Linked DNA regions of Homo sapiens: regions 2, 3 and 4 are each reported to be linked to region 1. Evidence: microRNA targets listed by miRTarBase, many of them from high-throughput screens and not tested one by one. Region 1 holds a microRNA gene; each other region holds the end of a gene's coding sequence.
What was found. Region 1 holds the annotated microRNA hsa-miR-4640-3p (CACCCCCUGUUUCCUGGCCCAC, at 1,903-1,924, shown strand). A microRNA usually pairs through its seed, bases 2 to 8, with sites in the 3' UTR of a target mRNA and lowers its output. Matches are read on the target gene's strand: a 7mer-m8 pairs with bases 2 to 8, a 7mer-A1 pairs with bases 2 to 7 and ends in A, and an 8mer does both.

Region 1 (3,105 bases):
AGAGGAGCTCCTGGGACCTCTACTTCCCCTCCAACCCCTCTGCCCATGCCAGTGAAACCCCTGCAGGCTGAGGGGGCAAATGAAGTGGGGTTTAAATACTGGAGATGGAGGCAGACCTGGGGCCAGATGTTCTCTGTGCCCCTCTTCACCCTCAGGTTGGAGAGCAGTGACGGGGATGGGGCCTGGTGCCCCGCAGGGTCGGTGTTTCCCAAGGAGGAGGAGTACTTGCAGGTGGATCTACAACGACTGCACCTGGTGGCTCTGGTGGGCACCCAGGGACGGCATGCCGGGGGCCTGGGCAAGGAGTTCTCCCGGAGCTACCGGCTGCGTTACTCCCGGGATGGTCGCCGCTGGATGGGCTGGAAGGACCGCTGGGGTCAGGAGGTGAGACTGGCAGGGGCAGCACCCAGAGGAGGTTGGCTCTCCTCACTTCCAGCTGTACTTTAAACACCACCTATACGCTGACGACTCTCCAGTTTATATCATCTCCAGACTAAGCCTCTCAGCTGAGCTCCAAACAATATTGTAAACCTGGCCACCTTTTGGATTTCTCCACTTAGATGTCTTTTTTTTTTTTTCTAATAGATGGGGTCTTGCTGTGTTGCCCAGGCTGGTCTTGAACTCCTGGGCTCAGTGATCCTCCCACCTTAGCCTCCCAAAGTGCTGGGATTACAAGCACTGTAGCCAGCCACCTAGATGTCTAATAGGCATCTCAAACGTACGTTTAACTTCCCAAGCTGAATTTGATTCCCATTCCCAGCCTAAACCTGCTCCTCCCCTGGCATTCTCCAGCTCAGGAAGTGGTATCACCATTGCCTGGTTGCCTAGGCTATAAGTTAAGATGATATCCTTGATTCCTTTTTTTCTCTCACCTCCTTCCAAAGCATCAGCAGCCCCGTCTGTTCTACCTCCATAGTGTTCCTGAGTCCAGTCACTCCTCACCACTCCACCTCTACTGCCCTAGGCCACCTGCCCGCCATCTCCAGCTTAGATGAGTGCAGTAGATGCCAAACGCGTCTCCCTGCTTCTGCCCTTTTCTGCCTGGAGTCAAATCTCCACCTGGGGGGGCGGCATCCAGTGGACCTTAGAGCATGTAAATCAGATACGTCACACCTAGCTGACACCCCCATGCTGGCTTTCCACTCTGCCAGAACAAAAGCTGAGTCCCTAGCTGGTGCAGGATGCTCAGCCTGACCTGGCTCCTGCCTGCATCACTTGTTTCTTGGCGCCTCCTTGGCCACGCTGCCTTTCTTCTTGTTGCTGGAACAAGCCAGGGCTCGTTCCCACAGCTTCTGGACATTTTCTCTGTGCCTGCAAAGCTCCTCCCCTAAATAACCACAGGCTCTCCCTCACTCCATTCAGTTCTCTGCCAGGTGTCACCTCCTTAGAGAGCCTTTTCTGGCCACCCACCTCACTGCTCTGTCCATACTTCCTGCCTCTTGTTCTTCGCAGCTGTTTTCCCTGCTGGGATCTCAGTCCTACAAGGGTGGGGAGTGACGTTCACCACTGAGAACGCGCCTGGCACAGAGCGGGCACTCAGCCAACTTCTGCTGAATGAACAGAGGGAATGGGCTGAAATGAAGGGGAAGCTGAGGCAGGGGTGCAGGGCTGTGAGGATTGGGGAGAATCTGGGCACAATGGGATGATAGGCTTGGAGACAAATGGATGGAGCCAGGCAAGGAGAAGAGGGCAGCTGAGCCTGAAGTCTGAGGATGGAACATCAGAGCTGCGACAGAGCCAGAGGTCTCAGCTGCAGATCTTCATTTCACCCATGCCTGGCTGCGCCCCACAGTGCTGTGTGCTCGGTGCCACCCCTCATGGGTCTCTAAGTGGCCACTGTGGGCTGGGCCAGGGAGCAGCTGGTGGGTGGGAAGTAAGATCTGACCTGGACTCCATCCCACCCACCCCCTGTTTCCTGGCCCACAGGTGATCTCAGGCAATGAGGACCCTGAGGGAGTGGTGCTGAAGGACCTTGGGCCCCCCATGGTTGCCCGACTGGTTCGCTTCTACCCCCGGGCTGACCGGGTCATGAGCGTCTGTCTGCGGGTAGAGCTCTATGGCTGCCTCTGGAGGGGTGAGTGGCTCAGCTTCCTGGGAATCTGTTTCCTGAGCAGGGGACTGGAGGGTGGGGAGTGTGGAGAATGGGCATCCAGGATCCCTTCTCCTGCTGGGAAGCTGTCACTCTGAGGAGGGGGCTAGCCAGCATTGTCTCCTCCATGCCAATGAGCCAGTGGAGAGATACAAGAAGGGACCTGAAACCTGCCCAGGCCTGATGCAGGGATGGGGGATGGAGCCTTAGTGCCTCTGACCCCCATCCTCTCACCCTGCCCCAGATGGACTCCTGTCTTACACCGCCCCTGTGGGGCAGACAATGTATTTATCTGAGGCCGTGTACCTCAACGACTCCACCTATGACGGACATACCGTGGGCGGGTAAGAAAGGCCCCTGCAGGATATGGAGTTTGGGGTGGGAGGGAGGACTGTGTGTGTGTGTGTGTGTGTGTGTGTGTGAGAGTGTGTGTGTGTAGGGGGGCTGGTAAGTAGGGTGGGGAGTGAGATGGAAGAGCTGAGAAGAGGGATGGGTTAGGTGGGGCCTCAAAGGGTAGCACTAGGGTGACCACTAGCCCGTATGACACTGTATGAAAAAGGCACCCCTTTGCTAACACACATTGTTGGAAATTGCTGCAATAAATATACACATCATAGATTGAAATGGTGCCCCTTAGAGGTGGTGCCTTTGTGCTGGATGTGACCTGCAAGGTACCTGTAGTGCTGGGGTGGGGTGGAGAGAGGAGAAGGGCCAGCTGCATGAGTGTGAGGTGGGATGGGAATGGGACTAGTGGATGGGAGCCAGGCTGGCCATGCCACTGTGCCGGAGGGTGGCGGAGCAGAATGCCTGGATGTCAAGACCCTCTTCCCTTCCAACCTCCTCTTCCTTGGTCCCCTCTTCTCCAGACTGCAGTATGGGGGTCTGGGCCAGCTGGCAGATGGTGTGGTGGGGCTGGATGACTTTAGGAAGAGTCAGGAGCTGCGGGTCTGGCCAGGCTATGACTATGTGGGATGGAGCAACCACAGCTTCTCCAGTGGCTATGTGGAGATGGAGTT
Region 2 (3,105 bases), not on the chromosome of region 1:
TGGTGTGCCGATAAGGCCTGCTCATCAGCCAGAACCTGCAGCCAGAACCAGAAATCTCCTTACTTGGTAGCTGACAGTCTCTTCCCAAGTTCCATCCGATTTGTTCCCTGGGAAGCAACAGCAGCTCATTTCCGCATTCCCACTAGGCCTCAGGGAGCCTTAGAAGAAGCCAACGACTCAACCTGCTCCCTCCTCTCAGGCCACCACCAGGTCCTGGAAGGCACCTCCAGCTGGCACCTCTTCACAGCTGGCCCCTCTAACTGTTCAGGAACTCCACCCTCACCCACCTGTGGACACCATCAGGCCTCACGAGAGAGAACCTAAGAAGCAGGGCCAATACCCACTCCCTTTTAGAGGCAGATCAATTCATCAAATGCTCACTACTGCCCTGTGCTGACTTTAGTTAAACATCAGTAGGCTTCAAGAGGCAACAGCTTCTTATGCTTCTTCCTGCTCTCTGCTTTTACTCCCCTCACAGCCTTACCAGCAACGTCTTCAGTGGTAAGATTTAGTAGAAACTCCTAGAGCCCTTTTGGAAAGACATTTGGTGTTATGCATGAGATCCTCAAAACTGCTCATTTATCCCATTTCATCCAAAATGACATTTACTATTTTTACTGTTTATTCCAAAACGCAGGAAAAGCTTCATATAAGATATTCGTTGCAGTATCTAAACGAGTGACCAACCAGAAACAATTCAAATGTCCAGCAATATGGAAATTGTCCAGGATAAACTTATGTCATACTCCCACTTGATAGACAATTATGTTGCTATTATAAACAACTACAGCCAGGCACGGTGGCTCACGCCTGTAATCCCAGCACTTTAGGAGGCCAAGGCAGGCAGATCACAAGGTCAGAAGTTTGAGACCAGCCTGACCAACATGGTGAAACCCTGTCTCTACTAAAAATACAAAAATTAGCCAGGCGTAGCGGCGCACACCTGTAATCCCAGCTACTCAGGAGGCTGAGGCAGGAGAATCGCTTGAACCCAAGAGGTGGAGGTTGCAGTGAACCAAGATCGCGCCACTGCACTCCAGCCTGGGCAATACAGCGAGACTCCATATTTAAAACAACAACAACAACAACAACAAAAAAAAACTACAGACTGCCAGGCACGGTGCCTCACACCTGTAATCCCAGCACTTTGGGAGGCCGAGGCAGATGGGATCGCTTGAGGTCAGGAGTTCGAGACCAGCCTGGCCAAGATGGTGAAACCCCTGTCTTTACTAAAAACACAAAAACTAGCCAGGCACGATGGCGCACGCCTGTAATCCCAGCTACTTAGGAAGCTGAGGTAGGAGAATCGCTTGAACCCAGGAGGCAGAAGTTGCAGTCAGCCAAGATCACGCCACTGCACTCCAGCCCGGGTGACAGAATGAGAGTCCATCTCCAAAAAAAAAGAAAAAAGAAACTACAGGCCAAGGCCGGAGGATCACTTGAGCCCAGGAGTTTGAGACTAGCCTGGGCAACATAGTGAGACCTGGTTCTACAAAAAAATAAAAAAATTAGCTGGGCATGGTGGCATACTCCTGTAGTCCCATCTACTTGAGGAGCTGAAGTGAGAGGATCACTTGAGCCCAGGAGGTCAAGGTTGCACTGAGCCGTAATTGTACTGCACTCCAGCCTGTGTGACAGAGTGAGACCCTGTCTCCAAAAAACCAATTATGATGACCATGTAAAATGGGAAAATGATAATAGTGAGAAAAGTATATAAAATTAAATGTACAGTAATGATAACTATCTCTAAAACCTATGCAGAGAATTAGTAAAAGACAACAAAATGTTAACGGTTGTTATTAACGAGCTGGGAACATGGGTGACCTTTTTAAAATCCCTACCAAATTTTCTTGAATGTGCGTATATACTTTTATAGGGAAAGGCGTCTATGTGTGTGTATGTGAGGTCTACCTCCATTTAGACTTGAAGGTGCTGCAGCCAATTGTAATAATGGTAAAAAGGTTCCTGGGAATCTGTGCCTCCAGGGTTCAGTGCAACCGCACTAGTAAAGCAGTTTCCAGGGCTCCTTGGCACCCTTTAATACCAATGTTATCCTGCTCTAAAATGCCTGTACTTGCCTAACTCCTAAGAAGACCCCCAAATACCACCTGGATGATAAGATTCGATCATTATGGTTCTCAGATACCACTTTAATCAGGTTTTTCACTATACAGTGATGGGGGTAGAAGATGGTGACTGTTTTCAAGCAAATTCACGAGGCACATGTTCGTCCCTGCCCCAAAGTGAACAGTCTGGGCTTCCCAGAACAGAAAAGTGCTTTCCTTCCTGGGGGAATCCCATTCCTGAGCTGACAAGACAGATTTCAGTAAGAATGAGCACAAAGGATAGGGCAAAATAGTGAAGGGAGCCAGGTGCATATTTGAATTCTTTCCAGTGCAGACTGGAACTAGACATGCAGGTATCCCTCCTAAAGGCAACGCCCAAATCCCAGCCATTCCCACTAGAGGCCAAACCGCCTGCCCACAGAGATTGACAGCCAATGTTCATCTCATAACTCTCCTCCCAGCAGTGCACCAGTAAACTCAGATGCCTGAGTGCTTGTGGCCACCACACAACAGATGCGGCCTTCCTCTTCACTGGCCCCTCGGCTGCTGCTGGGTCTGCCTGGCCATCAAGGAGCAGCCAGTATTTGTGTGGCTGTGTGGTGTGGGAAGGGCCAGAATAAGCAACAAAGCCAATTAGATGTGGGTTCTGGGGCTCTGTCAACATGGTAGCAGGACAAGTCACCACCCACAGTAGGACCATAGGGCCCTGTGTCCTCCATTAATTCTTCTCTGGGCGGTTTCTGTTCAGCACAGCTTTCGGGGCAAATTCTAGCTTGTCCTTAAGGCTCACCACCTGCGTGTGGTCCTTGCCTAGAAGCTCATCCAGCTTGCGATCCTCCCGGCGCTCTGAGATGCTCTTTTCCTCCTCCACGGGCTGGGGGTCCTTTCCCCTGATGAACCATTCCAGGTGGTAACCCACAGCCCCGACCACGAAGGCAACAGGGAATGTGACATAAGGAGCATAGGTACGAACCACGGTCCAAAACACAGGCCACATGACATCTGCGGAAAAGCACAAGGCAGCATTAGAGAACCCAGC
Region 3 (3,105 bases), not on the chromosome of region 1:
CAGCCTGGCCAACATGGTGAAACCCTGTCTCTACCAAAAATACAAAAATTAGCTAGGCATCGTGGCAGGTTCCTGTAATCCCAGCTACTTGGGAGGCTGAGGCAGGAGAATCACTTGAACCTGGGAGGCAGAGGTTGCAGTGAGCCGAGATTGTGCCACTGCACTCCAGCCTGGCTGACAGAGCAAGACTCCGTCCCCCTAACAAAGTTAAGTTTAGGCTGGGCGCGCAGTGGCTCGTGCCTGTAATCCCAACACTTTGGGAGGCTGACGCTGGAGGATTGCTTGAGCCCAGGAGTTCAAGACTAGCCTGGGCAACATAGAGAGACCCCATCTCTACAAGAAATAAGCCAGGCGTGGTGGTACATGCCTGTGGTCCCATCTACTTGGGAGGCTGAGGTGGGTGGATAGTTTGAGCCCAGGAGGTTGATGCTGTAGAGCTGTGATTGCACTACTGCACTCCAGCCGGGGAAACAGAGTGAGATACAGTCTCAAAAAAAAAAAAAAAGTAAGTTTACAGTTTCCATATTACTTGGTATCAATGAAAATGGATTCAGATTATTCCTTCAAAAAAACACATAACCAAAGAAAATAAAAATCAATTCTATATTATTCCTAATAGAATTAGGCCATAAGCAATATCTACATATGCAGAATCTCAGATATTTTATAAACCTAGAATAGTCCACCAATGAGATGTAAAGTGATTGGGTTTTCTCTTTGTCAGTGGAATCGTCTGCCATGAGTCTGCCTTTTCTGCCTCTCACACAAATCGACACTGTGATTTATGTTCCTGAGCAAATTAGACTTAATTTAAGAGCAAATCATCAGCAACAGGTATAATAATCTTGGCAGAACATTTATTTTAATGAATTGCTCTCTGCCTAACATAGATAGAAGGATGCTGATGCCATTTACCCTATATGGATTAGTGCTGTCATGTAATTAATTTTTTTTTCTTCCCCTAGAACTTAAAGTCTCATCAGTTTTAAATTAAAAAGGCATTGGTTTATTTCATATTTAATCATAACAATCTAACTTCTCCGGCAATGTTTATATAAGAAAGTTGTGAAAGACAAATGGATTCTAACCACCCTGACGCATGATAGGTTCCTGCTCCCTACACTTAGGCAGTGTTGCGTTCCATGGGGTCAGAGTGGGAACTGTTTTGGTGATAAACAGCTGAAAACCCTCACCCCCATCACTCTGGCAGGAAGTAGGGATGGAAGAGTGATTTTAGAACAATGTAGTTTTTCTTCCCTGTGAAGCTGAGTATCAGTTTCCCTATTATTTATACTTCAATGAGAGGCAAAAAGAAAACCAACATTTCCTTCACTCTATGGGGGTTTGAAACTGTAATTGTCAAGGGCATCTTGCAGTAATTGACAACTAAATAAACCCTACCTTCTCAAACCTGCCAAACTCAATGCTATGTATAAATAATTTGATGATCTTTGCAAAGAAGATGCAGAAACAGCTAATACTAAATACAAGGAAGGATCCCAGGGTCAGGGCTACAATGCTCATACTAAAATAATCTTGCTATATAATAATGAAGTTAAAGATCCTGTTTTTTGAAAAAGAAAACAAATTGTTACCTTAAACCTTTACCTGAGACAGTCCTTCATATTCTAACCAATTAGTTGCTTATTCATCTTTAAAAATGCTACAGGGCCGGGTGCAGTGGTGCACACCTGTAATCCCAGCTACTGGGGAGGCTGAGGTAGGAGGATCACTGGAGGCCAGGAGTTCAGCCTGGCAACCTAGCAAGACTGGTCTCTAAAATGTTTTTAATTTAAAAAAAAAAAAGCTATAGAAAAATGTAACCCTTTCCTACATAAAGTATGCATTTCTCATATATCCTATATAAATTCAGTAACAAGAATGGTAATTAAAATGCCTTCCTTACATTAGTACTAAATCTCAGGAGGCAGCGAGAATAAACAAGTGTAAAAGAAACACCATGAAATTATCTGTACAACAAAACAGCCAATCCTGATGAAAGAAAAGCCTGTTTTGTTAGGTTTTTACAATATAAAATAGATTTAGTACTGCAATGACACAAATTTGGAATCATCATTAACTTTATTTGTCACTCTTGATAGACATTGGTCCACTCCAACATAAAAAGTAGAATTCACCCACTTCCACTTAATATTCTATAGAATGAAGTTGTACCACAAACCATAGTAACTTACACAGGGGGAAAAGTTACTGAAATAAAAATGTTTTATATTCATGCCTCAAAATGTCCCTCAGGGATTTTTGTGTGTATAATGAAAAGCATCTATATACTCCACAAGGCTAGTTTCTTCTTAGATCAATGTAGTATTTTTAGTATCCATATTAGCCCATGTAGGTCAACAAACTTGCAGAAGAGGGTTAAAAAACAGCTGTCCTCTGTTACTCAGATACAGTTCCAAAACTAAGCGATTATATAAGCACATCCATATTTTAGGGCTACTCTAAGTTAAAAACCTTTTCTCTTGTTTCAGAGTTATTTACATCAAATTAAGACATTTACAAATTGTTCATAGTATACAATAGCCCAAATATGATTTTCACCTATGCTGTGTAAAGAAGTTAAGCATTCGTAAGTTTGTCTAATAAATTCAGTGCACTTTTTTCCATAACACGAGCTATTCTAAATGTTTTACATTTCTTTCAGTGCATATTTCCAAATTCATTAAACAGAATGAAATCAATGTTATTAAATGGCTATATCATAATATTCAAGCATATTATGGAATCTATACCACAGTGGGATTCACGTCAATACTATAATTCACTCTAGAAAAACATCACAGGCACACACAAAATAAAGAACAAAATTTGATTTTTTTTTATAAATGTAAAGTATACTATCTACTTTAAAGCACACTAAAAGATATATTTTAACAAAACAGCCAATTTCCAACCCCCTTTTCTAATTCTGGCACAGGTAACATTCAATCCATTCGAATCTTCTGGTTTGTCATCCTATAAATGATGCTATCATATCCAGGATCCATGTTCCAAATATTGTAAGAGGTGATAATCACAGCCAAGGCCAAGGCGATCATTATCCAAAGTACCATGTTGAAAACCACGGAATATTCAAAATTATAC
Region 4 (3,105 bases), not on the chromosome of region 1:
GAGACCACCTATCACACGCTGGAGGAGGGCGTGGTGGAGTACTGCACGGCTGAGGCGCCCCCACCTCTGCCACCAGAGACCCCTGTGGACATGATGGCCCAGCATGCAGACACGTCGGTCAAGCCGCAAGCGCTCAAGAGCCGCATTGCTCTCAACTCCGCCAAGCTGATACAGGAGCAGCGGGTCACCAACCTGCATGTGAAGGAGATCGCACAGCACCTGGAACAGCAGAACGACCTACTGCAGATGATCCGCCGCTCCCAGGAAGTGCAGGCCTGTGCCCAGGAGCGCCAGGCCCAGGCCATGGAGGGCACACAGGCTGCCCTGAGCGTCCTCATCCAGGTCCTCCGGCCTATGATCAAAGATTTCCGCCGCTACCTGCAGAGCAACACAGCTAACCCGGCCCCCGCCTCTGACCCTGGGCAGGTGGCCCAGAATGGGCAGCCAGACAGCATCATCCAGTGAGGGCAGGGGTCAGGCCAGCCTTCTGCCATGATGGGATGAAAACTCCATGGACTTGTAAGTGGGTCCTGTGATTGGCCTTGGCCTTAGACCGGCCACGTGCACAGCTCCCTCTTTAATAAACGCTTAGGGGTTGCACTGTTTTTGAGAAGAGGAATTTGTTGGGCTCCTGGGACCCAAACTCATACTCCCCCTACTTGAGCTGCCTTGCTAAGATCCAGAAGATTGGTTAGCAGGGGGTCACGTGTGCATGTGATGGGACATGTGTTGTCATGACCCCGGGCTTGTGACATGACCCAGCCTTGGTCTTGGACAACTGTAAGGAACAACACAACGGGCTGTCACTGGGGGCCGTCACCCAGCCTGGGTCTCTACTGAGCTGCCCAACCCCAGGTGCCATCCTTTCGAGTAGGGTAATGTCACTGATGCTGGCAGTTGAGCAATAATATCTTCCTCCTTTGGGAGGTAGTGTGACTGAGGAGGAAACCCCACCCTTTTCTCCTCACTGTGCCTCAGTTCTCAGGGGACTCCAATGACTGTTGTGCTCTCCCCCGACCCCACCCCAGGCACAGCGCAGGCCCTTGTTAGGTAGTGTGCTGGGACGCCTCCGTAATACATGCAGTGTGCAGCCAGTCTGGCTCAGGAATGCTGTGTATGGTGGGGACGGTTTGGCCACTCTCTGGTTTTCAACAGCATCTCTGGGCAGCCCTTTGGTGGTTTGTCCCTAGAGCTTTTGACTCAGGTCAAGCTTTGGATGCTGTAAATTTTTGAGAAAGCCAACTAGTGTGGAAGCTTGCTGCCCCACTGCAGTGGGTCTGAGTGACCTGTTGGCTTTGTGCGGAGGCTTGCATCCAGCCAGTTGTATTTATTCTGTGTGTGAACCCCTCCTAGGAAGGCCTCCAGGAAGGCTGCCCTGTGGCCACACCCATCCTCCTTTCCTCTCTGCTGACTCCACATTTCCAAAATTCAGTGCAAAAAAAGCCCTGCTGAGCATCACATGCTGGACTCTTCCCCTGCCACACCGCTCAGTGCCTTCTGTTCTCTTGAGACTCCCTCTGAGTAGCTGAGTGAATCCAAAGCCATAATTGACCCTGAACGTAGGAGGAGGAAAAGGCGAAGCTGACCTAAGAAGTGGGACCCTGGCCGGGCGAGGTGGCTCAAGTCTGTAATCCCAGCGCTTTGGGAGGCCGAGGCGGGTGGATCACGAGGTCAAGAGATCAAGACCATCCTGGCCAACATGATGAAACCCCGTCTCTACTAAAAACACAAAAATTAGCTGGGCGTGGTGGCACACGCCTGTAGTCCCAGCTACCCGGGAGGCTGAGGCAGGAGAATCGCTTGAACCCAGGAGGCGGAGATTGCAGTGAGCCGAGATTGCACCGCTGCACTCCAGCCTGGCGACAGAGCGAGACTCTGTCTCAAAAAAAAAACAAAGAAAAAACCAAAAAAACAAATGGGACCCTTTGGATTCTATGCTCAGGGAAGAGCAGGCAGAGCCTTGGAGTGCTGAAGGAGGTGCTGTTCCCTGTTCCATCTTTACACTTTCTCTTCTGAGATGTCTGTAAGGATTTTACCCAGATGCCATTTGTCTGTTTCATTTTCAGACTCACCATCAATTACCAAGGCCCTTGCATCTCCCCAGATCGTTTCCCAAGTTTGGCGATTTGCTGTCGGTGCCTCAGCCACATATGACCAATGGTTACAACTCAGGGCTCCAGACCTCAGCTAAAAAGAGAAGACGCTGCCCTCCTGGGCACGAACGTTTAGAATGCTCAACTCCTCTATTGTGACCACAGGAAGGTGGCCCTGAAGATGCACCGAAGACAGCTGGGAGGTGACTGCTGTACTGTCAGCCTCTCTGTGGAGGCATTCGTGCAGTGCCAGCTAAAAGGGAGGTGAAGGGGGATATCGGACCCAGCGAGGGAGTTGCTGGTAGAAGGAAAGCTCTTCTCAGTGTGGCTGGATTAAGAGCAGCCTAGCAGCTTGGGCACCTCCACTCTGTGCGGTCTGATGGCCCCAGCAAGGTCGCTGCAGGGACTTCCTGAGGACTTGGTTTGGTTTTTTTCTGGGGTTGGAAATCTGAGCCAATATTGTGTCTGTTCCATTTGGGTATGAAGAGGAAGTCTGGATCACTTAAACTGACTAGTTATTTCCGGGTCATAATTTTAAATTAAAGACATATCACTTTTTTATACACACATCTCTGTGTCTTTATTGCTTATATATAGAAGAGAACCAGGGACTGGCAGACGATGGCCCACAAACTCAAATCAGGCTCACCACCTATTTTTATAAATAAAATTGTATTGGAACACAGCCACACCCATTCATTTATGAACCTGTGGCTTTTTTTTTTTTTTTTTTTGTACCACCAAAGCAAGAGTTGAGTAGTTACAGAGACATCTGGCCCACAAAGCCAAAAGTGTTTACTCTCTGACCCATTTACAGTAGAAGTCAGTCTATTCCTGGTTTAAGGCAGTGTTTGGGACTCTTAAGAATTACCTGAGGCAGGCCAGGCACTGTGGCTCATGCCTGTAATCCCAGCACTTTGGGAGGCCGAGGTGGGCAGATCACGAGGTCAGGAGTTCGAGACCAGCCTGACCAACATGGTGAAACCCCGTCTCTACTAAAAATACACAAATT

Region 2: the mRNA of SMIM12 is a reported target of hsa-miR-4640-3p. The part of its 3' UTR that is shown has no 7-base or 8-base seed match.
Region 3: the mRNA of ATP6AP2 is a reported target of hsa-miR-4640-3p. Seed matches in the 3' UTR shown: 7mer-m8 at 2,914-2,920.
Region 4: the mRNA of NAIF1 is a reported target of hsa-miR-4640-3p. Seed matches in the 3' UTR shown: 7mer-m8 at 697-703.

The regions. Positions count from the first base shown.
Region 1 is chr6:30,889,047-30,892,151 of GRCh38, forward strand. MIR4640 (microRNA 4640) reads left to right here and starts at 1,837; the gene lies at 1,837-1,926. DDR1 (discoidin domain receptor tyrosine kinase 1) reads left to right here. Exons shown (of 18, transcript NM_001297654.2): 4 at 156-384; 5 at 1,927-2,074; 6 at 2,334-2,433; 7 at 2,956-3,105.
Region 2 is chr1:34,852,915-34,856,019 of GRCh38, forward strand. SMIM12 (small integral membrane protein 12) reads right to left here. Exons shown (of 2, transcript NM_138428.6): 2 at 1-3,068. The coding sequence starts at 3,063. The coding sequence ends at 2,785. Among named protein-coding and RNA genes, the nearest start is that of SMIM12, 5.3 kb to the right of the region's middle. RefSeq lists enhancers at 83-312, 737-1,607.
Region 3 is chrX:40,605,596-40,608,700 of GRCh38, reverse strand. ATP6AP2 (ATPase H+ transporting accessory protein 2) reads right to left here. Exons shown (of 9, transcript NM_005765.3): 9 at 1,853-3,105. The coding sequence ends at 2,946. Among named protein-coding and RNA genes, the nearest start is that of MPC1L, 16 kb to the left of the region's middle.
Region 4 is chr9:128,060,788-128,063,892 of GRCh38, reverse strand. NAIF1 (nuclear apoptosis inducing factor 1) reads left to right here. Exons shown (of 2, transcript NM_197956.4): 2 at 1-2,660. The coding sequence ends at 465. Among named protein-coding and RNA genes, the nearest start is that of NAIF1, 5.0 kb to the left of the region's middle.